3 separate regions of the Homo sapiens genome follow, and all the other regions are linked to region 3. Evidence: fine-mapped expression QTL. A gene starts in region 3. Each other region holds a variant in brackets. All regions are shown on one strand. Distances are between the middles of the regions.

Evidence for each region. PIP is the estimated chance that this variant, and not a neighbour inherited with it, causes the effect.
Region 1: its variant is fine-mapped to the expression of ZFP92 in tibial artery (GTEx, PIP above 0.99).
Region 2: its variant is fine-mapped to the expression of ZFP92 in cerebellum (GTEx, PIP above 0.99).

What each region holds. Positions count from the first base shown.
Region 1 is chrX:153,430,189-153,438,464 of GRCh38, forward strand. No RefSeq gene overlaps it. Among named protein-coding and RNA genes, the nearest start is that of TREX2, 12 kb to the right of the region's middle. The variant T/C (reference allele first, on the strand shown) is at 4,562.
Region 2 is chrX:154,299,399-154,307,674 of GRCh38, forward strand. It overlaps TKTL1 (transketolase like 1), which reads left to right. Exons shown (of 13, transcript NM_012253.4): 2 at 5,906-6,023. Among named protein-coding and RNA genes, the nearest start is that of TKTL1, 7.7 kb to the left of the region's middle. The variant G/A (reference allele first, on the strand shown) is at 4,165.
Region 3 is chrX:153,407,759-153,416,034 of GRCh38, forward strand. It overlaps ZFP92 (ZFP92 zinc finger protein), which reads left to right and starts at 3,714. Exons shown (of 6, transcript NM_001136273.2): 1 at 3,714-3,945; 2 at 4,207-4,255. It also overlaps a transcript of PNMA6E not described here. RefSeq lists silencers at 3,510-3,759, 3,820-3,959, 4,022-4,232.

The sequences.
Region 1 (8,276 bases), 22 kb after region 3:
TCAGCCTCCCGTGTAGCTGGGACTACAGGTGCCTGCCACCACACCCGGCTAATTTTGTATTTTTAGTAGAGACGGGATTTCACCATATTGATCAGGCTGGTCTCAAACTCCCAACCTGATGTGATCCACCTGCCTCAGCCTCCCAAAGTTCTGGGATTACAGGCGTGAGCCACCTCGTCCAGCCACCTGGCTGATTTTTTAATTTTTTTTTTATAGAGATGAGGTCTCATTATGTTGCCCAGGCTCCAAGATTTTTTAAGTACCATTTTCTGAAAAGGGCTTCTGACAGAACCTCACCAAGAACCAGATCTGCTGGCACCCTGACGTTAGACTTTTAGCCTCCAGAACTGTGAGAGCTCAAATCAAATCAAATCAAAATAAGAAAGTAAGAATTAAATTTTTTTCATTTTTTTCAATGAAAATATTCCTCGCCTACTATATAATGTATTCTAGCTGGTTACATGAGAACAAGGTGAGAGGAGGTAGAGAAGGACAAAGGAGGAAAGAGGAAAGCACAGGTGAGAAGGAGAGCAGCTTGACTGCAGTGACTGAACACTCAGATCACAGGGTCTCCTCTGGTTATGGGAATGGGATGCAGGAAGAAACAAACACAGTATATCAGTTAGGAAAGTGGCCACAAAAGTAGTAGAAAACCTAACTATGGTGGATTAAAGAATTAGATGCTTTGTTTTCTCACCTAAGGACTCTGGGGTAGCTTTCTGGCATCGGTTCAGCAGCAGAGCTTTTGGCAGTACGCAGCATCTTTCTGATTTGCTTCGCTTTGCTGCGTGATCACAAAATGGCTGCTGAAGCTCCAGCCATCACATATGCATTAGACAGAAGGAGGAAGGGGCAGAGACAGACACTCTGTCCTCTTTTATCAAGGAAGCAACAGTTTTCCCAGAAACTTGCCTGGCAGACTTCCACTTAGATCTCAGGAGCCAGAACTGGATCATGCGGCCACCCCTAACCTCAAGAGAGGCTGAGAACGTTGGGAATGGGATGGATTTTCATGACCTATCACCTGGGGCTGAGCCCACTGATGCCTTGAACAAAGTTGGGGTCTTATCCCCAGAGAAAAAGGTTAGGATGCAGATTGGGTGGTGTTATGAGTCAAATTGTATCCCCCAAAAAGGTAGGTTGAAGTCCTAACCCCCAGTACCTCAGAATGTGATCATGTTTGGAAGTAGGGTCGTTGCCGATGTAAATATTTAAAATAAGGTCATACCGGAGTAGGGCGCACCCTTAATCCAATATGGCTGCTGTCCTTACAAAGAGAGGAGAATGCCATGCAAAGGAACAGACACACAGGGAGAAGGCCATGTGAAGACAGAGACAGGGATAGAAGTGATGAGGCCACAAGCCAAGGAACACCCGGGGCCACCAGAAGCTGGAAGAGGCAGAAGGACCCTCCCCTAGAGCCTCTGGAGGGAGCGCAGCCCTGCCCACACCTAGATATCAACCCGAGGGCCCTCAGCTCTTTATGCCTGAACTCTGGGAGGCTGGGGGTGAGGGAGAGAAGGCCAGCCTTGCTCAAGCCCCTCCCACTGGCCGGCATCCTGACTACCATTTACAGATGTGAAAACTGAGGCTTAGAGATGGGAAGGAATTGTCTGGAGACTCAACACTAGGAAGCGGCGACAGATTCATGCCCAAGTTCCAGGACTCCAGCATTGCTGCTCACTCCAGCCAATCAGGGAGAGCAGCTGTGTGAACTCTGCCCCCAAACTAAAGGGAATCCAGTCGCCTTTACCATTTTCCTAACTTCGCCCATTTGGGGGGATGATTCCATAAGTTGGCCATAACCAAACATAAAAATCATTTGATTTTCTGGAAAAGATTGTACAAAAGGAAAGAAGCCAAAGGTTAAATCCTGCCTTGGAATTGGGAAAGCGTTTGGTCATCCCCCTCCCCGCCCTTGCACCATATAGGTTCTCAGCTGGTGAGACCCTCAGGAGCGCTGGGGCTGTGGGCCCTGGAGCCCTGCCACCTGCACTTTCTTCCATCCCTTACCCACAATTGCTCACTCCGGATGCCATGCACCTTCGTTTCCTTTCTGTAAGACTGAGGGGGCCAGGTGTGGTGGCTCACATCTGTAATCCCAGCACTTTGGGAGGCTGAGGCGGGTGAATTGCCTGAGGTCAGGAGTTCGAGACCAGCCTGGCCAACATGGTGAAACCCCATCTCTACTAAAAATGCAAAAATTAGCCAGGTGTGGTGGCGCATGCCTGTAGTCCCAGCTACTTGGGAAGCTGAGGCAGGAGAATCGCTTGAACCCAGGAGACGGAGGTTTCAGTGAGCCAAGATCACGCCACTGCACTCCAGCCTGGGCGACACAGCAAGACTCCATCAAAAAAAAGAAAAAAAGGAGAGAGGGAGAGAAAAAGAGAGGAAGGAAGGGAGAGAGGGAGGGAGAGAGGGAGGGAGGGAGGGAGGGAGGGAAGGAAGGAAGGAAGGAAGGAAGGAAGGAAGGAAGGAAGGAAGGAAGGAAGGAAGGAAGGAAAAAGCACCACAAACCAGGTGGCTTAAAACACCAGAAATTTACTCTCTTATTGTTGAAGAGCCAGAAGACCCCTCCCTTGCCTTTTCCAGCCGCTGGTGGCCCCGGACTTCCCTGGGTTGTGGCTGCATCGCTGCAATCCCGGCCTCAGTCTTCAAGTGGCCTCGTCCTCCCACTGTGTGCCTCCACTCTGCGTCTCTCCTAAGGACACTTGTCAATGGATTTAGGGCACACTCCAGTAATCCAGGATGACCCTGTCTCAAGATCTTTAATGTAATTACATCTGCAAAGACCCTTTCTCCAAATAAGGTCACACTAAAAGGGGGCAGAGATTAGGACATGAACACATCTTTTGGGGGCTGCCTTCAACCCAGCACAGGCAGGAACAGGCTTGGTGTGTTTGAGGCCTGTGTGGCTGGAGGCCAGTGGGCCTCCCAGGGGCAGTGGGGAGGGATGAGGGTGGCAGGGCCAGGGACAGCCATATAGGGCTCGGAGGGCATGACAAGAAGTGCAAGGGCTCAGACATAACAGGAGCTGTCACCGTAGCTGACATGCACTGCACATGTGCTATGTGCCAGGCCCCAGGCATGACCCACCCTCCCAGGATCATTGTATTGTTTCCATTTTACAGATGAGGAAACTGAGGCCAGGCTGTGAGGTCATTTCTGCCAGCCACAGGGTTGGGCAGCTGGGGGGTGAGGCCTGGCACCCAGGCTGTCACCACTAGCTGAGGCCCCCTCCCAACGGCTTGGGTGCCTTTCAGCCCTGGACCTCGAGGGAGGGAACCACAAACGCCAAGTCCTCCTCTCCGCCCCAGGGGACCTGGGAAATGCCAAGGGTTCTTTTGCCGGGCTTCCGGGTTCCCTGGCAGGAGGGGGAATGCTGTACGTGCTGGATTTCCAGGTTGGAAGGAGACTTTGTAAACCTTTTCAATACAGCCCCGCCAGGCTTACGGCCCAGGGAGGTGTGTCTGCAGGACCCGGACACATCTCTTTGAAATGCAAACATAAAGCTAGCGCCCCTAGCTCCCTGCCTTCCTGAGACCACCAAGAGAAAGCTTTCATTTTCCTTTGGATACAGGCAACTCACTAGCGCAGAATGGCCAGCTGCTGACCAGGTGCACTCACGATGGATGAGGACATGCAGCAGGGCATCTTGAGATGGCATCTGCCTGACTAGATCAAAGGGTAGCTGACATGCACTGCGCAAAGGATGAGGTTTCCTTCTCGGCCTGTGATGCCCATTGCAGCTGAGCTCACCTTTGTCTTCTTTCCCGCATTGTGGAGAGGGCTCCCCGGGCTGGCAGGACCTCCAGTCTTCCCAGTACATGCAGGGGTGGAGCGCCCAGGGTGGGGAGCAGGGTCCAGAGGTGGGAGGGGCTGAGCGGAGGCCATGGATCCGGGGCCCGGGGCGAGGATCAGCCTCCAGCTACCCGGAATGCGCTGGGCCCCTGGAGGTACCTGGGTGACTGACAACCCAGGAGCCTGGGGCTTCCGCTGGGACTGTGGCGACTATCACACCTCACGCCACTTAAGGGGTTGTCGCTGCTTCTACAAATCCAGCTAGAAACAAGAAGATGGAAATTGGGAGGATGCTGGCCAGAAGACAAGAAGTGAGGAGCAGGGGCAGAGGACAGACGGGTCAGCCCTTGACTGAAGAAGGCCTCCCAGAGGAGGCAAAGGCCCGTCTCCACCTCAGGAGGGCTAGCTGAGCTCCACTCCAAACCGGATTGTCATGGACCTGGGCTTTGCCTGACAAACATTCCCAAGCTCCCAAGACAGCAGGAGCATCTCAGAAGCTTCCAAACAGAAAGAACCAGCAATAGCAGAAATGGATCAGAGTGGGCCAGCTTCCCTGTGCGACTCTGGCAGCCTGTGGATCCTCATCCTCACCCAGCAGGGAAGGAAAGCAAGAATCCTTGTGACCAAGCAGGTTAGCTTCAAAATGCATTTTGATACTCGGGAGGCTGAGGCAGGAGAATGGCGTGAACCCGGGAGGCGGAGCTTGCAGTGAGCAGAAATCGCACCACTGCACTCCAGCCTGGGCGACTGAGCGAGACTC[T/C]GTCTCAAAAAAACAAAAAACAAATGCATTTTGAAACTTCGTCTTTCCTTTCTTGCTTTCAGCCTTAATGTACTTTGAAACTCCTTGTTTCCCTCCCTTCCCACCAGACACTCCCTTGCACTGCTCACTCACCTAATTTTGTGCTTACTTAGTAGTTCCAGGGCGCTAATCTTGAGACAAACCAAGCATGGAAATCTAGCTGTGAAATTCCAGGCGGTCAGTCTACAACCCAGCCATCGTAGAGATGATGCCAGCCCGTGCTCCCAGTGGACCATGACTCAAGATAGCCAAGGGAACAAGGCACACAGACCTTGTGCCCAGTGCCCCGCCTGCATGTCTCCCATTCCAAGCTCCCTTTTACTCCTCTCGCCCACATAAAGCTTGAGATGGTTCCTCTGAGGCTTGAGCCTGGCCAGCCCGGCCATTCTCCCACCTGCTAGCACTCGAGTAAAAGCTGCTTTCGGCCAGGAGTGGTGGCTCACGCCTGTAATCACAGCACTTTGGGAGGCCAAGTTGGGTGGATCATTTGAGGTCAGGAGTTTGAGGCCAGCCTATCCAACATGGCGAAACCCTGTCTCTACAAAAAATACAAAAATTAGCCAGGCATGGTAGTGCGAGCCTATGATCCCAGCTACTCAGGAGGCTGAGGAAGGAGAATCACCTGAACCCAGGAGGCGGAGGTTGCAGTGAGCCGAGATTGTGCTACTGCACTCCAGCCTGAGTGACAGAACAAGATTCTGCCAAAAAAAAACAAAAAACAAAAACGGCTTTCCTTTCACCACACCTCGCTTCTTGTATTCTGGCCTCCAAACAGCAAGCAGCCAGACTTGAGTCGGTTACATTCTGCAAACATCTGCTCACTGCAAAGCTGCAAGACCAAACAACCCCTGCAACAGAACAGAGGCCTCAGAGAGGAAGGGGCGGTGGGCAGCCACCTCACAAAGTATGCGCTCAATTGAAATAAGTGATGACAGAGGGGCTGGCTGGGCTGGCTGTAAGGATCAAGTACAGATTCGTGGGTGTTACGCACGAAGAAAATTCCAGAGAACAAAGACCAGACCGTGCTATAGTGACTGGGAAGGTAAAGTTTATGCATCAACCTGGCCAGTCTACAGTACCCAGTTTTGGTCAAACACCAGTCTAGATGTGGCTGTGAGGGTGTTTTTAAATAAAATTAGTATTTAAATGAGAAGACTAAGTACAGCAGATTGTTCTCCATGCTGTGGGTGGGCCTCATCCAATCAGTTGAAGGGATTAAGAGAAAATGACTGAGGTCACCCAAAGAGGAAGGAATTCTGCCTCCAACTCGAGCCTTTGGACTCAAACAACTCTTCCCTGAGTGTCCAGTGACTTGCCAACCTCCATGTCACGTGAGCTGATTCCTTAAAATCTCTCTCTCTCTACACACACACAAACACACACACACGATATGATATATATCATATACATGGTGTGGATATAATGTGTATTTTTGGTGTGGTTTTTTGGGATTTTTTTTTTCTTTTTTGAGACCGAGCCTTGCTCTGTTGGCCAGGCTCACCACCACACCCGGCTAATTTTTGTTGCATTTAGTAGAGACAGGGTTTCACCATGTTGACCAGGCTGGTCTCGAACTCCTAGCCTCAAATGTTCTGCCTGCCTCAGCCTCCCAAAGTGCTGGGATTACAGGCATGAACCACAGTGCCTGGCTATAATATGTATCAAGTATTTGTCAGTATATATGTGTCATGAGTATATGTGTGTTAGAGCGTGTGTATATATATATGTGTGTGTATTAATACAGTTGTAATGCAGTAAGCACAAACACACAGCAACTAAATGCATAAAGAAAAATGACTAGACATGAAGGAAGACTTCAAGAAAATGCAATTACAATGGAATGTTCTAATATATTGTCATTAAATCAGACAGATATAGTCAACAAAAAAAAAAACAAGTAAAAATGTAAAGGAAATTGAATAGTACAATTGTCAACTAGATTTTAGAGATATATAGAAAAGCCTGCATCTCTGAAGCAGGTGCATTTTTCAGAGTCTATAACATATTTTACAGTTATTTATGTATTCGGCCTCTGTTATCCATTGAATTGTGTCTGCCTCCCTCCTCCCCCTAAAAAAAGATATATTACAGCCCAAACCCCCAGTACCTCAGAATGGAGCCTTATTTGGGGATCTTCACAGAGGTAATCAAGTTAAAATGAGGTCATTAGGGTGGGCTGTAATCCAATATGACTGTGTCATTATAAAAAGAAGAAATGTGGACACAGCGCCTTGTATGCAGGGAGAAAGAGGGCTGTGTGAAGATGAAGGCAGAGATTGGGGAGAGGCTGCCACAAATCAAGGAACACCAAAGATGGCCAGCAAAGTCCCGGAAGCTGGGGGAGAGCCTGGAATAGATTCTCCCTCACGGCCCCCAGGGGGAACCTTGCCCTGCCAACACCTCGATCTCTGACTTCTGGCCTCCAGATCCGAGAAACAGTCCATTTCTGCTGTCGAAGCCCCCTAGTTTATGGAACTTTGCTATGGCATCCCTAGAGAACTCAAGCAGCCCCCAAACTACCTTAATTCGAAAAGGTGATATTTTAAGCAACACATCCTCAGATTATTATCCAATACAACTAAAATACACAACAAAACATGACTGGCTGGGTGTGGTAGCTCATGCCTGTAATCCCAGCCCTTTGGGAGGCCGAGGAGGGTTGATCACTTGAGCTCAGGAGTTCGAGACCAGAGGGAAACATGGCAAAACCCCATCTATACAATAAATACAAAAATTGGCAGGCTGTGGTGGCGCATGCCTGTAGTCCCAGCTATTTGGGAGAATGAGGTGGAAAGATAGTTTGAGCCCGGGAGGCGGAAGTTGCAGTGAGCCAAGATTGCGACAGTGCATTCCAACCTGGGTGACAATGAGACCCTGTCTCAAAAAAAAAAAAAAAAAAAAAAGATCATGAAATCATAATTACTCAGAAATTAAGATAAACTGCAGTATATAAGCATGAGATCAAGAAGGGAATGGAAAGCAAAATTACAAGCTATTCCTAAAGCAAAGCAAAGAAGAATGTTTAATAGCAAACCTATAGGACACAGTAAAATCTGCATTTAGCGATAATAAAGTGTCAAGCTTATTGATAGATACAATTTCAACACCAAACGCATCACTGGCCATAATGTTTAGGGTACAGATTGAATACACACTTTAATTTAAAATACCCGAATCACTCAAAAGATACTAATAAATCAAAGTTTTAAAAGATTCAGCTGGGCATGGTGGCTCACACCTGTAATCCCAGCATTTTGGGAGGCCAAAGCGGGCAGATCACCTGAGGTCAGGAGTTCGAGACCGGCCTGGCTAACATGGCAAAACCCTGTCTCTACTAAATATACAAAAATTAGCTGGGCATGGTGGCATGCGCCTGTAATCCCAGTTACTCGGGAGGCTGAGGCAAGAGAATCGCTTGAACCCAGGAGGCGGAGGTTGTGGTGAGCCAAGATCGTGCCATTGCATTCCAGCCTGGGTGACCAGAGCGAAACTTCATCTCAAAAAAAAAAAAAAAAAGATTGGACACTTCCCTTTAAACATATAATTACCTCTAAAAACTATCTGTAGCTTTGGAATATGAAAGTATGAAATTGTATTCACCCAGCCAATACTATGCCCACATATACTGCTGCTCCCTATTGAAATAGGAACGTAGTCAGTGGGTGATATTTGTAAT
Region 2 (8,276 bases), 890 kb after region 3:
CCCACCTCGGCTTCCCAAAGTGCTGGGATTACAGGCATGAGCCACCGCACCCAGCCTCTCATTTTCTTTTTTTAATTTTAATAGTGTTAGGGGTATAAGTTGTTTTTGCTTATGTGAATAAATTCTATATTGGTGAATTCTGAGATTTTAGTGTACCCATCACCCAAGCAGTGTACATTGTCCCCAATATGTAGTCTTTTATCCCTCACCTCCTTCCTACCTTCCCCCTTCATTCTCCTCCCCAAAGTCCGTTATATCACTCCAAAACTTAGCTCCACTTACAAGTGAAAACATACAGTATTTGGTTTTCTATTCCTGAGTTACTTCGCTTAAAATAATGACCTCCAGCTCCACCCAAGTTGCTGCAAAATACATTGTTTTTTATGGCTGAGCAGTATTCCATGTTGTATATACACCACCTTCTTTATCCACTCATTGGTTGATGGACACTTAGGTTGGTTCCTTATCTTTGCAATTGTGAATTGTGCTGCCTATAAACATGTGTGTGCATGTACCTTTTTCATATAATGACTTTTTTTCCTTTGGGTAGATAGCCAGTAGTGGAATTTCTGGATTGAATGGTAGATAGATGGTAATCTACTACTTTTAGTATTTTTTTTTTTTTTTTTTGTCTTGAGACGGAGTCTTGCTCTGTCGCCCAGGCTGGAGGGCAGTGGCGCAATGTTGGCTCACTGCAACCTCTGCTGTCCGGGTTCAAGCGATTCTCGTGCCTTAGCCTCCCGAGTAGCTGGGACTACAGGCACACGCCACCACTGCCAGCTAATTTTTGTATTTTTAGTAGAGACGGGGTTTCACCATGTTGGCCAGGCTGATCTCGGTCTCTTGACCTGGTGATCGCCTGCCTTGGCCTCCCAAAGTGCTGGGATTACAGGCGTGAGCCACCGTGCCCAGCCCGATGGTGTATTTTGATGGGAATTGCATTGAATCTGTAGATTGCTTTGGGCAGTATGGCCATTTTCACAATATTGATTCTTCCTATCCATGAGCATGAGATATCTTTGTTTGTGTCATCTGTGATGTCTTTCAGTAGTGTTTTGTAGTTTTTCTTGTAGCTGTCTTTCACCTCCTTGGTTAAGTATATTCCTAGGGTGGGTTTTATTTGTTGTTTTTGCTGTTTACAGCTGTTGTAAAAGGGATTGAGTTCTTGATTCTCAAGCTTGGTCGTTGTTGGTGTAGTGCTACTGATTTGTGTGCATTTATTTTGTAACCTGAGACTACTGAATTTGTTCATCAGATCTAAGAGTCTTTTGGATGAGTCTTTAGGATTTTGTTTGTTTGTGTTTGTTTGTTTGCTTGTTTTTGATGGAGTTTCTGTCACCCAGGCTGGAGTGCAGTGGCATGATCTCGGCTCGCTGCAACCTCCACCTCCCGGGTTCAAGCGATTCTCCTGCCTTACCCGAGTAGCTGGGACTACAGGTGTGTGCCACCGCACCCGGCAAATTTTTGTATTTTTGGTAGAGACAAAGTTTCACCAGACCATGGCCAGGCTGGTCTTGAACTCCTAACCTCAGGTGATCTGCCCATCTCGGCCTCCCAAAGTGCTGGAATTACAGATGTGAGCCAACCGCGCCTGGCCTAGGGTTTTCTAGCTGTATGATCGTATCATCAGTGTTACAGCACTAGTTTGACTTCCTCTTCTCCAATTTGGATGCCCTTTATTTATTTCGCCATTGGCTTTTGGTTGTGTAAGAGTGTGTTGCTTAATTTTCACAAATTTGTGAATTTTCCAGTTTTCCATCTATTATTGATTTCTAACCTCATCCCATTGTGGTTAGAGAAAATACTTAGTGCAATATGTTTTTTTAAATCTTGTTGGCCAGGCGCGGTGGCTCATGCCTGTAATCCCAGCACTTTGGGAGGCTGAGGTGGGGTGGATCACCTGAGGTCAGGAGTTTGAGACCAGCTTGGCCAACATGGTGAAACCCTGTCTCTACTAAAAATGCAAAAATTAGCCGGGCGTGGTGGTGCACCTCTGTAATCCCAGATACTTGGGAGGCCGAGGCAGGAAAATCACTTGAACCCGGAAGGTGGAGGTTGCAGTGAGCCGAGAGAGTGCCACTGTACTCCAGCCTGGGCAACAGAGTGAGACTGTGTCTCAAAAAATAAATAAATAAATCTTGCTCCAGAGCCTGGGCTAGATAGTAAGAGGACAGTGTGGATGCAGTTAAGAACCATATATGTCTGAATTTTTTGTACATGTTCATTTTGTTCCCTTCACCTTCAAAATTAGTAACAGATGGCTGCATTTTCTCAAGGGATCTGTGTGGCTTTTAAATCTAAATCATCCACTTACAGGACATTTGCAAAGCAAGAGGTTTTAGTCCCCATTTTCTTTCTTTTTTTTTTTTTTTTTAGTAGAGACGGGGTTTCTCCATGTTGGTCAGGCTGGTTTCGAACTCCCGACCTCAGGTGATCCGCCCACCTCGGCCTCCCAAGATGCTGGGATTACAGGCATGAGCCACTGTGCCCGGCCTAAGTCCCCATTTTCTTTTTTCTTTTTTTTTTTTAAATGAGACAATTATTTATTTTAGGCAGATAGTCAACTTAAAAATCATTCAGCGTGGGCACTCCTGAAACTGTCAGGATCATGTTGGTTTCCTCGCTGTTTGCCGGCTATTGGCATTTGTGTCATCACACACAGTCCGATGAGGTGACAACAGAAAAGCATATCTCACTTCTATCGTAGGTTTCCATTCACTTTCGGGTTCTCAATCGCCCTGTGTTTCCTCAGTGATACTCCAGACTTTCCAGATGTTCTGGTTGACCCATTCCTCTTTCTTTTTTTTTTGCAAAACAAAGCAAAAAGCAAGAAGAGAACTTTACATTTTGTCCAATAGTCCTAAGAAATTTTCCCTGTAGAGAATGTCATCTAAGTCAAAACAAGGGTTGAATAGGGGCACCCAAATCAGTTATCACTTAGGGCTGTTATAAGAAATGCCAAGACTGGGTGGCTTAAACAGCAGATATTCGTCTCTCACTGTCTGGAGGCTACAAATCCAAGATCAAGGTGCTAGCATGGTCAGTTCTGGCGAGGACCTGCTACTGGGCTCAAGAGCACTACCTTCCCCCCCGTATCCTCACATGGTCGGTCTCCAGCCTCTTCTCATAAAGGCGCTGATCCCATTCATGAGGGCTCCACTCTCACAGCGTAATCACCTCCCAAAGGCCCTGCCTCCAAATACTGTCACACTGGCATTAGGATTTCAGCATAGGAATTCTGGGGGGACACATTCAGTCCATGGCCTCCCGTACCTGTGAATGTGATCTTATTTGGAAATAGGGTTTTGTAGGTGAAATTAAGTTAAGGATCTTGAGATAAGATCATCCTGGACTTAGGGTGGACCCTAAATCCAGTGACTAGTGTCCTTATAAGAGAAAGAAAAGAGAGATTGGAGACACACAGACACCGTGGAGAAACGCAGGAGAAAAGGTCCTGTGAAGGCAGAGAGGCAGGGACGGGAGTGACCCAGCTGCAAGACGAAGAACACCTAGGGCCAGCAGTAGCTGGAGAGGCAGGGGCGAGGGCGATCCTCCCCTAGGACCTAGGGAGAGAGCGTGGCCCTGCTGCCACCTGGATTCTGGATTTCTGTTTTGAGCCATCACGTTTGTGGCAACTCACCCTGGCAGGCTTAGGAAACGAATGCGTTAACCCATTGCATTAGCGCACAAAATAACACCCTGACTCGTTTCCTGCGCCAGCCTCCTACCTTGCCTTCTACTTATTAGACCCTACCTCTCATTCCCCATTTTTTAAAATTTTTATTTATTTATTTATTTATTTATTTATTTATTTATTTATTTATTTATTTTGAGGCAGGGTTTCACTCTGTTGCTCAGCCTAGAGGTGCAGTGGCGTGATCATGGCTCACTACAGCCTTGACCTCCTGGGCTTAAGCAACCCTCCCACCTCAGCCTCCCAAGTAGCTTGAACTGCAGGTGCATGCCACCCTGCCCAGCTAATTTTTTTTTTTTTTTTTTTTTTTTTTTTTTTTGGAAAGACGAGGTTTCACCATGTTGCCCATGCTGGTCTCAAACTCCTGGGCTCAAGCAATCCTCCTGCATCATCCTCCAGAAGAGCCGGGATTACAGGTGTGAGCCCCCACGCCTGGCCTCTCCCTCCTTTTTATCATTCCCTCTTCCCTC[G/A]TCTTCCTTGGCTTTCCTCCTCACACCTCCTGCGTTTGGCCCCCTTCCATTTTCTTTTCTGCTTCTCTTTCCCAACTTCCCCCTCATCATGCCAGGGGGACTCCTGGGCTGCGTGCCACCCCCCTGGAAGTCCCCCATAATGAAGCAGGATTTATGCCTCACACTTCACCATGGGAGAGCAGAAACCTCTCACTTGAAGCAAAAGGCACTGAAAATAAGCAAATAGTTATGCATTTGTCACTACCGAGTCCTAGCTGGCTTCCACCCTACCCCCCGCCCCCCACCATCTTCTTGCTCATTCAGGTCATCGTGTTCTCTGATACCCAGTAACTTCCATCATTTTCTACATGCATTTCTGTTGGTCTTCTGAGAATTGTGATTTTCCAAAGTAGAAAGGGCACATCGTCTTTTTGGAGCCTCAAAGGTGCAGACACTGATGCGTTGGGGGAGATCACAGTGTGACAAGGATGGGGTGGGAGTGTGTCACCCCCCTTTCTACCGACCCTCAGCAGTGGGGAGAGAGCAGAGGAGATGGAACCTGAGAGGAAGAAGAGATTTCCAATTACTTCCTTCTCGGTCCCTTCTCCACTGAAGCCTGTTACTCCTCTGCTGCCGGGGCCTCTTGAGTTTTCTCTCACTGAGCCAGGAAAGAGCTTAGTGAATAAAGAACAAGGTATCCCAGCAATGCAGGGAAGATGTCCAGGACAGTGAGTGTGAACGAGGGGTCCTGGAGAATGTGCACGCCAGCCCTGCAGGAGAATGTCCACGCCAGCCCTGCAGCCTGGTGGGCTCTGCCATCAGCACCCCAAAACCATTCATCAGTCACCTTCGACAATTGCACGTGCAAAAGCCCTCTTTTTGTGTCCTTTGAAGCTTTTTTTTTATCAGGCTGGGTGCGTGGCTCATGCCTGTAATCCCAGCACCTTGGGAGGCCGAGGCGGGAGAATCACTTGAGCCCAGGAGGTCGAGGCTGCAATGAGCTATGATCATGCCACTGCACTCCAGCCTGGGTGACAGAGTGAGGGCCCATCCCTTCGCGGGTCCCCATTAAGAAAATGGGGGAGGGACAGTCCCCATTTTCTTAATGGGGACTTTCTTAGTGAAATTTGAAATGAGAGATTATTAATATGAGCTGGGCCTAACATCTTTTTTTACTTGCAGTTGGGGCAGAGCTCCAGGGAGTTGGTTTTGTCCCCTGCTGTCTTGTCCCCTCCCCCTTTTTAATTAATTAGGGCCTGGCTGGACTCACATGCAGGCCGCTTTCTAAGAGCAGCAGTTACTTTGGCAGCATTCAGAAAGGGCCTCAGTTACTCTACCATGACAAATTTCTCAGTCTGTCACCGTTCACTTCCTAAAAGAAATTCATTGTAGAAGGTAGAATGGGATCTTCATGGCATTTCTGATTCACAATGCTCCTGAAAGTTCCTCGGCATGTGGAAAGGCCACAGATGAATTTAAGCATGTGAAAGAATACTCATGTCAGAGGCACAAAGGAAACTTGCCCCGAGTCCACGGTGCTCTGCGGTTAGGAGCTGGCCTCACTGTGCACAGGGGGAGGGGTGGTGAGCTTACCGGGCTTTAAAGCGCCCTTCCAACCTGTGAGCCCTGCATTCCTTACCCTTGGTTGGATTCTTCCCGGGCTGGGAGAAATGACCGCTTCTATGAGGAGACCATGTGCCGAGGTCGTGTGCTAGGAAGCCAGTTGCTGTGAGAAATGACCAGTGTCATGTCTGTCTTTCAGCCACCCTACATCATGTAGCAGTTCTTCTGAGATCATGTCTGTGCTGTTCTTCTACATCATGAGGTACAAGCAGTCAGATCCAGAGAATCCGGACAACGACCGATTTGTCCTCGCAAAGGTATGCCGGTGGGGAGCCCAGGGCTGCTGTGGCGCCTGCTGGTTAAGCCCAGTTTGAACAGCCACCGTGTGGGAACAAGGCCTGAAATGGGCCTCGTTTATTATTTTGGTTCTTCTTTCTTTGCATCTTAAAGCTCGAGTGTTCTAGTGAGGGCCACTTGGAGCCCTGTGATGGCATGGTAGGAAGGGTGGCTTGGGAGAGCTGACTGTCCTTCCTTTCCTTTGGTCACACCCTGCCTCGCCCCACTTAGCACGAACGCTTCCCCCATGGCAGGGTTATGCTGCTCCCACCCTCTGTGCTGCCTGAGGAGAGGCAGGCAGCCTCAGTGAATCCCACTCACTGAGCCTGGGGGAACTTGAGTGTAACCGGGAGGGACATCCCACCCCTGTCAGTTAGCTTCCTCTTCTATGTTTCTGCACATCTGACCTGAAACTGATGGGCACTTCTCATGAGATTGGGCAAAATACCAGCCACTTCATGAAGTATCATGGGTGATAGGAAAGAAAAAGAACCTTAAAAACAAGGTCAGTTTGAGAATGTGTGGCTGGTTTGATGCCATCTCAAAGTACACTGTGTCCCGAAGCAAATTAAAACCTGGCTAGGGGCCGGGTGCAGTGGCTCACGCCTGTACTCCCAGCACTTTGGGAGACTGAGGTGGGTGGATCACTGGAGGCCAGGAGTCCGAGACCAGCCTGGTCAACATAGCAAAACTCCGTCTCCACTTAAAAAAAAAAAAAATTAGCTAGGCATGGTAGCACATGCCTCTAATCCCAGCTTTTCGGGAGGCTGAGGCACAAGAATTGTTTGAAGCTGGGAGGCAGAGGTTACAGTGAGCCGAGATCGTGCCACTGCACTCCAGCCTGGGCGATAGAGCAAGACTCCATCTCAAAAGAAAAATCTGGCTGGGTAGAGTACTGTGTCCAAATAGAAATGCCAGATTAGCACAGTGGGAAGTGAAGACAAAAACTGGGCATAGCTGAAGTAAGTGCCTAAAGGTCATAATTGTGACCCTTGTCTTGGTGTCTGAACCATAACATCAAATGGTTTGGCAAAAAATAAATAGAATTTACATGTGTACGCGCATGTGTGGAGAGAGGGATGAAGTAAATGCCTTCCATTGCTTTCAGTTGGTTATTGGAGGTAAGCAGTATACAGGAAGGAAATCATTGTGCTAGGCTTTAAACATGTCTATAAACTTGAACTTTTTTTACATCTTTTTTTGTTCTTTTTTTGGGGAGGTAGAGTCTCGCTCTTGCCCAGGCTTGAGTGCAGTGGCTCGGTCTCAGCTCAATGCACCCCTGACCTCCTGGCCTCAAGCGATCTTCCCATTTCAGCCTCTTGAGTAGATGGCATTACAGGCATGTGCCACTACGACCGGCTAATTTTTGTATTTTTTGTAGAGACATGGTCTCACTATGTTGCCCAGGCTGGCCTCAAACTCCTGGGCCCAAGCGCCCACCTCTGCCTCCCAAAGTGCTGGGATTACAGGCAACAAGCCACCGCTTCCAGCCCTCTTTACAATGAAAATTGAAAAAAAAATAGATATATAAACGCAATATGGGTGTTTAGATTTCTGGTTTAAAATAAGGAAAGGCTGGGTACAGTGGCTCACACCAGTGCTTTGGGGGCTCCAGCAGGAGGATCTCTTGAGACCAGCCTGGGCAACATAGCAAGACCCCAGTGTCTACAAAAAATACGAAAATTAGCTGGGCGTGGTGGTGCGTGCCTGCAGCTACTCAGGAGGCTAAGGTGGGAGGATCACTTGAGCCTTGGGAGATAGAGCAAGACCCTGTCTCAAAAAAAAAGAAAAATCTAGACTGTCATATAACAGCTGCTATCAGAGCCATTGGCCTTAGGGGATGAAGAGGCTTTCTATCGGGCAGCAGCACACCAGGCCCTGTTCGGCTGCCAGAATTTGTGTGTTCATCAGATTTAGCTGGCTGATGAAATTGGAACAAAAGAGAAAACACATGAAGCATAGTCCATTGTGGTTTGCCTGGGAACGGGGTAAACAGCTATACTCCAGGCAGAGCAGATCTTTATTCTAGCCTTTCACCTCCCTGAATCGTCTGCCCCGCAGCATAAGGGTTCTTGAGAAAGACAGCACCCATGTGGGAGCACTTCTGCCATAACGGGCATCATACTGATGCCTCACCATTTTCTCAATCTATCCTCACTTTATCCTTGACCTCCTGTCACCTAAGGGGGCTCTGGTCTCCATTGCACCCATAAAGTCTTTGAGATGGGCCCACT
Region 3 (8,276 bases):
TGATTGGTTCAAATGCAGCTGCACATGTGTTCCTGGGGCAACTGTTAGTGATCCGAGCAGTCCATGGCCCAAATGGCCCAGTCAGACCAAAGGGAAGTTTTCAGATTTTATCCACAGAGGAGGGGCCTCTCTTTCCTTGAGCAGGAACAAGGAAGCACGTGATCCCAGCGGACACTGACAGACATTCTCTAGCACACAGGCAGCAGCCTGAAGCCAGAGCCAAGACTTGAGGTTGGAAAGAGGCTGGGGCCTGGGTGACAGCTCAGGACAGTGAAGCCACTGGAGGGGGCACCATAAGGATAGCTGTGGCCACACTGGGAGGGATAGTTGAGAAACAGTTGTGATCAGACTGGGAGAGTCAGTGAAGGGAGAGGGAGGCCGTCCTGGGAGGGACAGTGAGAACGGCAGTGGCCACACTGAAGAGGATCAGCAGAGGGCCAGTGGTGGCTCCCCTCTGGGACATTCAGGAACCGGAGCCACAGCTGCAGCCATGAGAGAAGCTGCCACTCAGGCAGTGGACGGCCACCTCCTGGGGCAGGTGCCCAGCTGAGCTTCAGGGCCTCAGGCTTCTGAAGGCCAAGACAGCCTGCCCTGAGGCCTGGGCATTGCTCCCTCCTGGCACCCAGGCCTGACACTATTGCCCCTACCGGCCTCATCCTGAGGGTCCCATCAATCCTCAGGGGTCGCAGGGTTGGACAAACTGGCCCACATGACACAAGGCATTCTCCATGCCATGAGCCACGCAGTACTCCGACCCTTCTGCAGGGTCAAGGAGCAACCTGCGTGACCTGAGGCATTGCCGCGTGCATTCCATCCCCTGCTTTCCCCAGAGCCACTGTCTCCTGGGACTGCAGCCTGGACATCCCCTCCCCCACTCACTGGCTGCACCCCATCTACAGCACTTTTCTGGCAGGGGGGCGGAGGCAGGAGTTGCAAAAACAGCTCATCCAGTCCAGACACACATCCTGTCCCCACAGGAGCTCACAGTCGCCATCACCCTCAGTGGATATCTGAGGCTGGCAGCATATTCCCAAGGCTCTGCATGCAGCCCAAGACCACCTCCCTCCAAGGGCACTCCAGCAGAGCAGTCAGCCACAGCCCAGCTGACCCCTGGGAGAGGTGCCGCCCTGACCCCTGCCCTGCTGTGAAGGTGGCTTACAGCCCCCTTTGGCCTGGCCTTCCCCAACTTGCTCACTCACTTCCCACAGACAGCTTGACGTCACCCTGGACCTCCCTGCTGGGCCCCTGGGCACCTGCTGTGGCTTGGGAGACCGGCTGCCAACCTGCCCCCAGGAGGGGGCTGCCTGTGACCTGGCGGGTGCCCACGGCACAGTGGGCAGCACCACAGCTGTGGGAAAGCGCCCACTCCCCTGCCCCCCGGCTACCTCACCTGCCCGTCCTGGGCCAGCCTAGGGCAAGGGGAGAACGGGAGACCAGAGCTGGGGAGCAGCCAGGCCAGCCGGACTGTGAGAGGGCTAGGTGTGGTGGGAACCCAGGGAGGAAAGGGGACCTCCCCACTTCCAGACCCCAACTCTTCCTCCCCAGGTTCTGAATCCGGGTTTGCTGCCCGGGAGGCCCTGCCCCTGCCTAAAGCAGAGATGGAGATACCTCTCTCAGGAGGCCCCAGGCCTCAGGGCCACAATAAGGGGAGTGGAGAGGAGGAGAGAGGGCCGTGTGAGGACCGCCGGGAGGGCCCGTGTGCCCTGTCATCCTCTCTAGGTTGGGCATGGGTTTGCAGTTCTTTACAGTAAAAAACTGAAAACATGCTGGAAGGGAGATTGATCTCCCGACAGGATCGTGGGCTTGTCAAGGTCGTCTTCACTTGCTCTAGGCGTCGCGCTCTTCAGCTGACCGCGCTGCCGCCTCCACCACCAATGTGTCCACACACGCGGTGCCAACAATGGTGCACACGGTGACCCCTGCTCCCCCATTTCTAAGCTTGTGTGGGACCCGCAGCCCAGTGCACATGGCCCTTTCTCTTGCAGTGGAAGTGGGGTGCACTCCCAGGGGCCCCCTTCCCCTGCCCGAGGCACACACTCCCCAGCCTCCATGCAGGTTGGCCGCTCACACTCTCTGGAAATGAGCCAAGGACAACAGGAGCTGCCTTCCCAAGGTCGCCCCAGTCCCCACCAGGTTACTGGATGATGCGGGTGCAAAGGTCCCCCCGCCCCCTGCCTCCATGGCCCAGGAGGACTCTGGGCTCAGCCTATTCCCTCGTGTCGGAGTGGCCTGGGCTGCCGCAGCAAATGACCACAAACCGCTTGGCTTCAGCCAACAGGAATTGACTCTCCCAGTTCTGGAGGCCGGAGTCCAGAATCGGGCGCTTCCTCCGGTGGCTCTGGGGGTGGATCCACCCACCTCTTCCAGCTTCTGGGGGCCCTGGGCACTCCCCACCTTCGCCTCCACATGGCCTTCTCTGTGTCTCTCTCTCCTGTCTCTTCTAAGGAAACTGTCCTTGGATTTGGGGCCCCCTGGATCATCTGGGTTGCTCTCATCTCCACATCCTCAATTTAATGACATCTGCAGACACCCTTTATTTGCATATAAGGCCCTGATCACAGTGCCTGGGTGTTAAGATATGGATGTATCTTTCAAGGGGCACCAACCAGTCACCCCACAACATCTCAACAGCCCAGATCCCAGCCTGCCCAGCCAGAGCCCCGGTGAAGGGACAAGCTTGGGCACCAGGACACACAGCTGAGGGCCACCGGGAGACTCCCTGCCTCTGCGCCGGGAAAGGGGCTCCGAAGCTCTCCCTGCACTGGGCCCCCTGGGGGCCCTGCTCCCTGCAACCGGAGGTTCCCTGAGCAGCGTCCTCGCCCTTCCCCTATGCCCCAGATGGACGGCTTTTGTTCTGGGAGCGCAGGCTTGCCGAGGGCTCCTTGCTGCGGGCTAAGTGCTCCTGGCCAGGGCCCAGGGTCTCTGAAGAAAAGAAACCCCTGAACTCTGGTTCAAAGGCCAAGGAGGCTCCCGCCTCGTGCTCAGTTCCCAGTGGCCGGGGCTGGGATATGTGATGTGGCTGATTTTTCCCTGTTGCTTTTCTTTTACGGTCTTTTTCATACGCTTCACTATTTGTCAAAGGTCTCACAATTGTCATCAGAGCAATATCCCAACCAACCTTGGATTTCACTCCCTGCTCTACCACGTGGAGCATGACCCTTTGGAAAATGACAAACTCCAGGTGCGATCCCCTCCGGTAACCTGAGGGAAAGCCAGATGCACCCAGAGGGTCTTGGCTTCTTGCACTTCCCTGACCTCCTTTTTCCCCTCCTCGTGTCTCCACACCATGCTCCCTGAGTCACCTTTCACCTCTTCCCCGCTCTCTGATCCTTGCCATCCTGGGTCACTCCTTTACTGAGTGACCATGGCCGGGGTACTTGGTGCTAGCTGCCCTGCAGAGGTCCCGGGGACCCCAGCGAGATGAATAACTGAATGAATGGACGTAATAACGCCCAGGGGTCTAGCCCATGGGAGGTGTTCTGCCAACGCGGGTCCCTCCCGTCCCCTTCAGGAGCCGCGGTGCGCTGACCACTTCGACCCCAGCCTTCAGAGCAGCCCAGACAGAAAGCGGAAGTGCCTCGGGGCGCGTGGGGAGCCAGGCCAGACGCCCCTGTGGGGCGGGCGCGGGGCGGGCCGCCATCCCTCTGCGCCGCGCATGCTCCATGCCCCCCCCACAACGCGCCCCGTTCCCACGCTGCCGCCGCCCCGGCCCCGCCCGCTCCCGGCCCGCTCGTCGGCGCACCAGACTGAGACTCCCCTTCAGGACGCTCTTCGCGAGCGGTACCCAGAGGCGAAGTCGAGACAAGCCCAGGAGCCCCCACCCCCCGCCCGCGTTTCCTGGGGACGCGGCCTCGGAGGGCTTCTAGGAGGAGGCGGCGGCCTTGGCCTCGGGCCTGCCGGGAGCAGGAAGGGAGGCCGACTCCCTCGGCTGCCCGCCGAGCCCAGGTAAGAGGGCCGAGCTGGGCCGCAGGGGTGCGGGTAAGCGGGTAAGGGGCCCGTCTCGGCAGGGTGCAGGTGTCGAGGGGGACGAGGGAGCTGCGGCGGCGGCGACAAGCAGGGACTCCCTGGGAGGCGGGCTAGCACTGAGTGGCCGGACCAGCCCTCGGGGCCGCCCCGTACCAGGGGCGCCAGGGGAAGAGCCATCCAGGGCTGGGCGCTGGGAGCTGCGGCCCGTGTCTGTCAATTTCTCTCCTGATTGGTTTCCAGCCACCGGTCCCGAGGCTGGCTAAAGAGCATCCTGTCGCTGATCTGCCTGGTGAGTTTGGATTTTGCACCTCTGGGTGTGAGAGTGCTGGGCAGACTGGCATTGTGAGGTTGTGGCACCGCTGCCCAGGCACCGGCCCTGAGGGTCTCCAGATCGGGGCAGGATGCCCAAAATTGTGCTCCAGAGGGTATCAGGTGGGGGCTGGTGCCTCGCGGTGGTGCGGGATGTTGACCAGGTGACTGGCATGCCACGGAAAAGCATCAGCTTAGCCAAGCCAAGGAGGAAGCGAAGGGCCGATGGAAGTGGTGGGCAAGGGTGAGAGAAGGAGCCAGCTGAGCTGGGCAGAAAGCGGCACCCAGCGCTTCCCTACAGGGCTAGTTGTGACTGATTCACTCCCACAGATACCTCCTGAGCAAGCATTTGAGATCTGCCAGGGACACGGCGGTAGTAAGCCCTGCCCTGTTGTTCTCGTTCTAGTGGCTGAGCGCAGACAATAAGCAGAAAATGTTTTCCATTAGTAATTACAGAGTCTGTTAAAAGGCAGTAAGAGCCGGGGAAGGGAGGTCTGGTTGCCAGTTTAGGTGGTTAGAATAACTTATTCTAGAATAAGTCTCATTTCTACCAAAACTTGAAGGTGGTAAAAGAGCGAGGCATGTGGTTATGGTTTTGGAAGAGCATTCTAGGCACAAGGAATCCCCTGTACAAAGGCCCTGAGGCAGGGGTGGCCTGGCTCAAGGGAGCAAGAGTGTGGCAGGAGCAGAGGGAGGTGCAGAGGTGGGAGGAGGGTTGGGCAAGGTCAGGAAGGGTTGTGTGAGTTTACTCTGAGTGACACGGGCATCCCAGGGATAACTGTGAGCAGAGAAGGACAGGACCCGACCCGCCTGTTAGAAGGATCCCTCAGCGAGCAGCCTGGGTGGCCCCCTTTTGGCTAGGTTACCCTCTGCCCCCAGAGGGCAAGGCCTGCCCAGCTGCAAGGAAGCTCCTCAGAGGACTTTTTCAGGCTAGGCTGCATGGAGGGCCCCGGTCGACCCATGCAGCACCCAGGCCGGGCCTTGGCTCTGGGTTTCTCCAGTTTCCTTCTCCAGCCGTTCTGCCAGGTGGGCAGCAGGTGACTAGGGCCTCGGGCCAAGGAAAGCTGATGGGGCTGAGAGAAGCAAGATCCCCCAGGACGGAAGAAACCCAACCAAAGTGGTGATGCCTGTCCCTTGCTGTGGATGAAAAAGCCCAAATTCCTGCTCCCACCGAGTGGGACTGCTGGATGCTTTTCTGATTGTTGTTTGTTTGTGTGGGTTCTTTTTTCTTTTTCTGGGAATATCTCCCCATCTAGTGGTCGTCTTAAGGCATCCTGCTAGAGCCAGCTCTCCCCTTGGTTGGCCAGGCTTCCTTGCTGGCAGTGGCCCTGCTCTCATCCCCTTCCCAGCCCTCCCCGCGTGGAGCACCCTGCATACTCAGTTCCACCCATAGGCTAAGGTCCGCAAGCAGGGGTCCCGGGTCCGAGGCCCCTCACAGAGGTGGAGCAGCCCTGGAGGGGCCGGCAGTGGCACCGGTCACCCAGGTTGATGGGCCTTTCTGGCTCCTCACCTGAGGCGCCAAGGTCTGGTGGATTCTCACCTGTGTGCCCGATGCTGTGCCTCGGGGAAGCCTGGCTTCAGAGCCCAGGATTATCCTTCTGCTTGGCCTCTGCTCTGCTGGTCCCCAAAGGTCACAGGGTCTTGCTGGTCCAGCTGGAAGAAGCTGCTCTCTAGTTCCGCCAGGTGCCTTCCAGGTGCTTCTGTCCTCAGATGCACGGAGTAGTGCCCACCTGGGTGTTATTTGAGTTCTATGGGCACAGGGTTTGTCGTGTCTTTCTTTCCAGGAGTTGAAATTGTAGATGATTTTCGGGAACTAGCTCTCAAGGACAGGCACTGCTCTGGGTGACGGCTTGGTGTGGCCAGCACCTCCGCTGGGTCTTCCGATGCTGCACTTGAGTGCGGGTCTCCGTCTCTGGGCGGCCTCCCGCCGATGGGGTGTTCACTCAGGGGGTCACCACTCAACAGTGCTCTGCTCCCTTGGGGCTCAGACCTGCCTCAGTAATCTTGGGGTGGAGGGACTAGAGATAACTCCTCCCCCTTTCAACTTGTCCAAAATGGGTAGTGAACTTTCAGTACTGTTATGGTAAGGAAAAAAATGAGCTTATGCTGCTTTTCAAAACAATAATTTTATACTAGTCTGAAAGCACTGGCAAATTATCAGTAATACCTCCCCACGCACCTTTAGTTTTGCAGGGGTCCCAGTGACTGACAGTGTGTTATAATGAAATGAGGTGTGGCCTGCGGACATTAGAATGATTTTACCTACAGGAACATTTCTTTTCCCTCCTTTTTGATTGAGGTGAGATTCACACAACATAAAAATTAATTTTTTGAGACAGAGTCTAGCTTTGTCGCCCAGGCTGGAGTGCAGTGGTGCAATCACGGCTCGCTGCAACCTCAACCTTCCCAGTTCAAGCCATCACCCCACCTCAGCCTCCCAAGTATCTGGGACTACAGACACGCGCCACCACACCCAGCTAATTTTATGTATTTTTTGTAGAGATGGGATCTCACTATGTTGGCCAGGCTGGTCTCCAACTCCTGAGCTCAAGTGATCCACCCACCTCGGCCTCCCAAAGTGCTGGGATTATAGGTGTGAGCCACCACGCCCGGCCAAATTAACCATTTTAAAGAGAACAATTCAGAGGCCATTTAGTACATTCACCATGTTGTGCAGTCACCACCTCTACCTGGCTCCAGAACATTCTCATCGCCCCATAAGGAAACCTCTAGACCCATTAGCACTCACTCCCCATCCCCCCACCCCCGGGCACCCACCAATCTGCCTTCTGACATGATGGATTTACCTGTTCTGGACAGACATGTTTTATGAGAGTTAAAGGTTCTTTGGATGACAGGACCCTGGGATAGATGAAAGGCACAGCTTTTTGTTCTGTATAGCTCTGAACGAGAGAAGGCTGCCAGGCAGGGCCACACAGAGGTTAGACCCGGGGACCGGGAAACAGCAGCTGGGGCCGGAAGGGGCCAGCAGAGGCGGGTGGCTAGGTTTCTCCAGCTTCCTTTGGATTGATTGAGTTGCATAAGTTTTCAGGCTCCAGGACATAGGGGCTGTCCCTACTTGTCTGGTGCCTGGCCCCAGAGTGTGGGGGCCCAATGAGGCAGGGGCCGTTGGAGTGTGTGTTTGGTGGCCCCAGAGAGAGGGAAATTGTAAGAAAAGTGGTGGGAGTGGGGACTTAGCAAACTGCCCTCGAAGGGCATAGAGATGAGAGGTTTTAGCCACTATTTCAAAACTAGGTCAAGACGGCTCTTGGGAAATGTGATGTTACATCACAAAATGGAATCATACAATATGTGACCTTTCAAGTCTGCATCTGGCTTCTTTCACTGAGCAGTGTCCTCAGGGTTCATCCACATGGTAGCATGTGTCAGAATTTCCTTTCTTTCTATGGCCAAATACTTTTCCATTGTATATATAGGCTCATGGTGTTGGTCCATCCATCCATCGATGGACATTTGGGCTTCTTCCACCTTTCGGCTCTAGTGATTAATGCTGCTGTGAACACAGGTGCGCAAGGGTTTGTGTGAACCACCTGTTTTCAATTCTTTGGGGGTATATACCCAGAAGTGGAATTGCCGGGTCATATGATAACTATGTCTAACTCATTGACAAGCCACCAGTCTGTTTTCCATAGTTTTTTTTTCTTTTTAATCACCATCTTGCCTTTTTTGTGTCAGCTTTTCTCTCTTTCTCTTTGTGAAAGGTTTTAAAGTAAGTTGCATGCCATTCCCTCCCCCAAATGCTTCAATATGCATTTCTTTAAAAGGGACATTTTCTTCCATGACCCAGTGCCACTATCCATCCAACACATGAGCAGTTATGATCCCCTACTTCCTTCCGAGGGCCACCCCATAATCACCCTCTCCCAATGATCCCTAATCCCTTTGACGACTCTCTCATTTACGCCAGCATCTCATTGACGACCCCTCTTGCAGTTGGGTGTTGGACCCCGTAAATCTCTTTTCATCTAGAACAGCCTCTC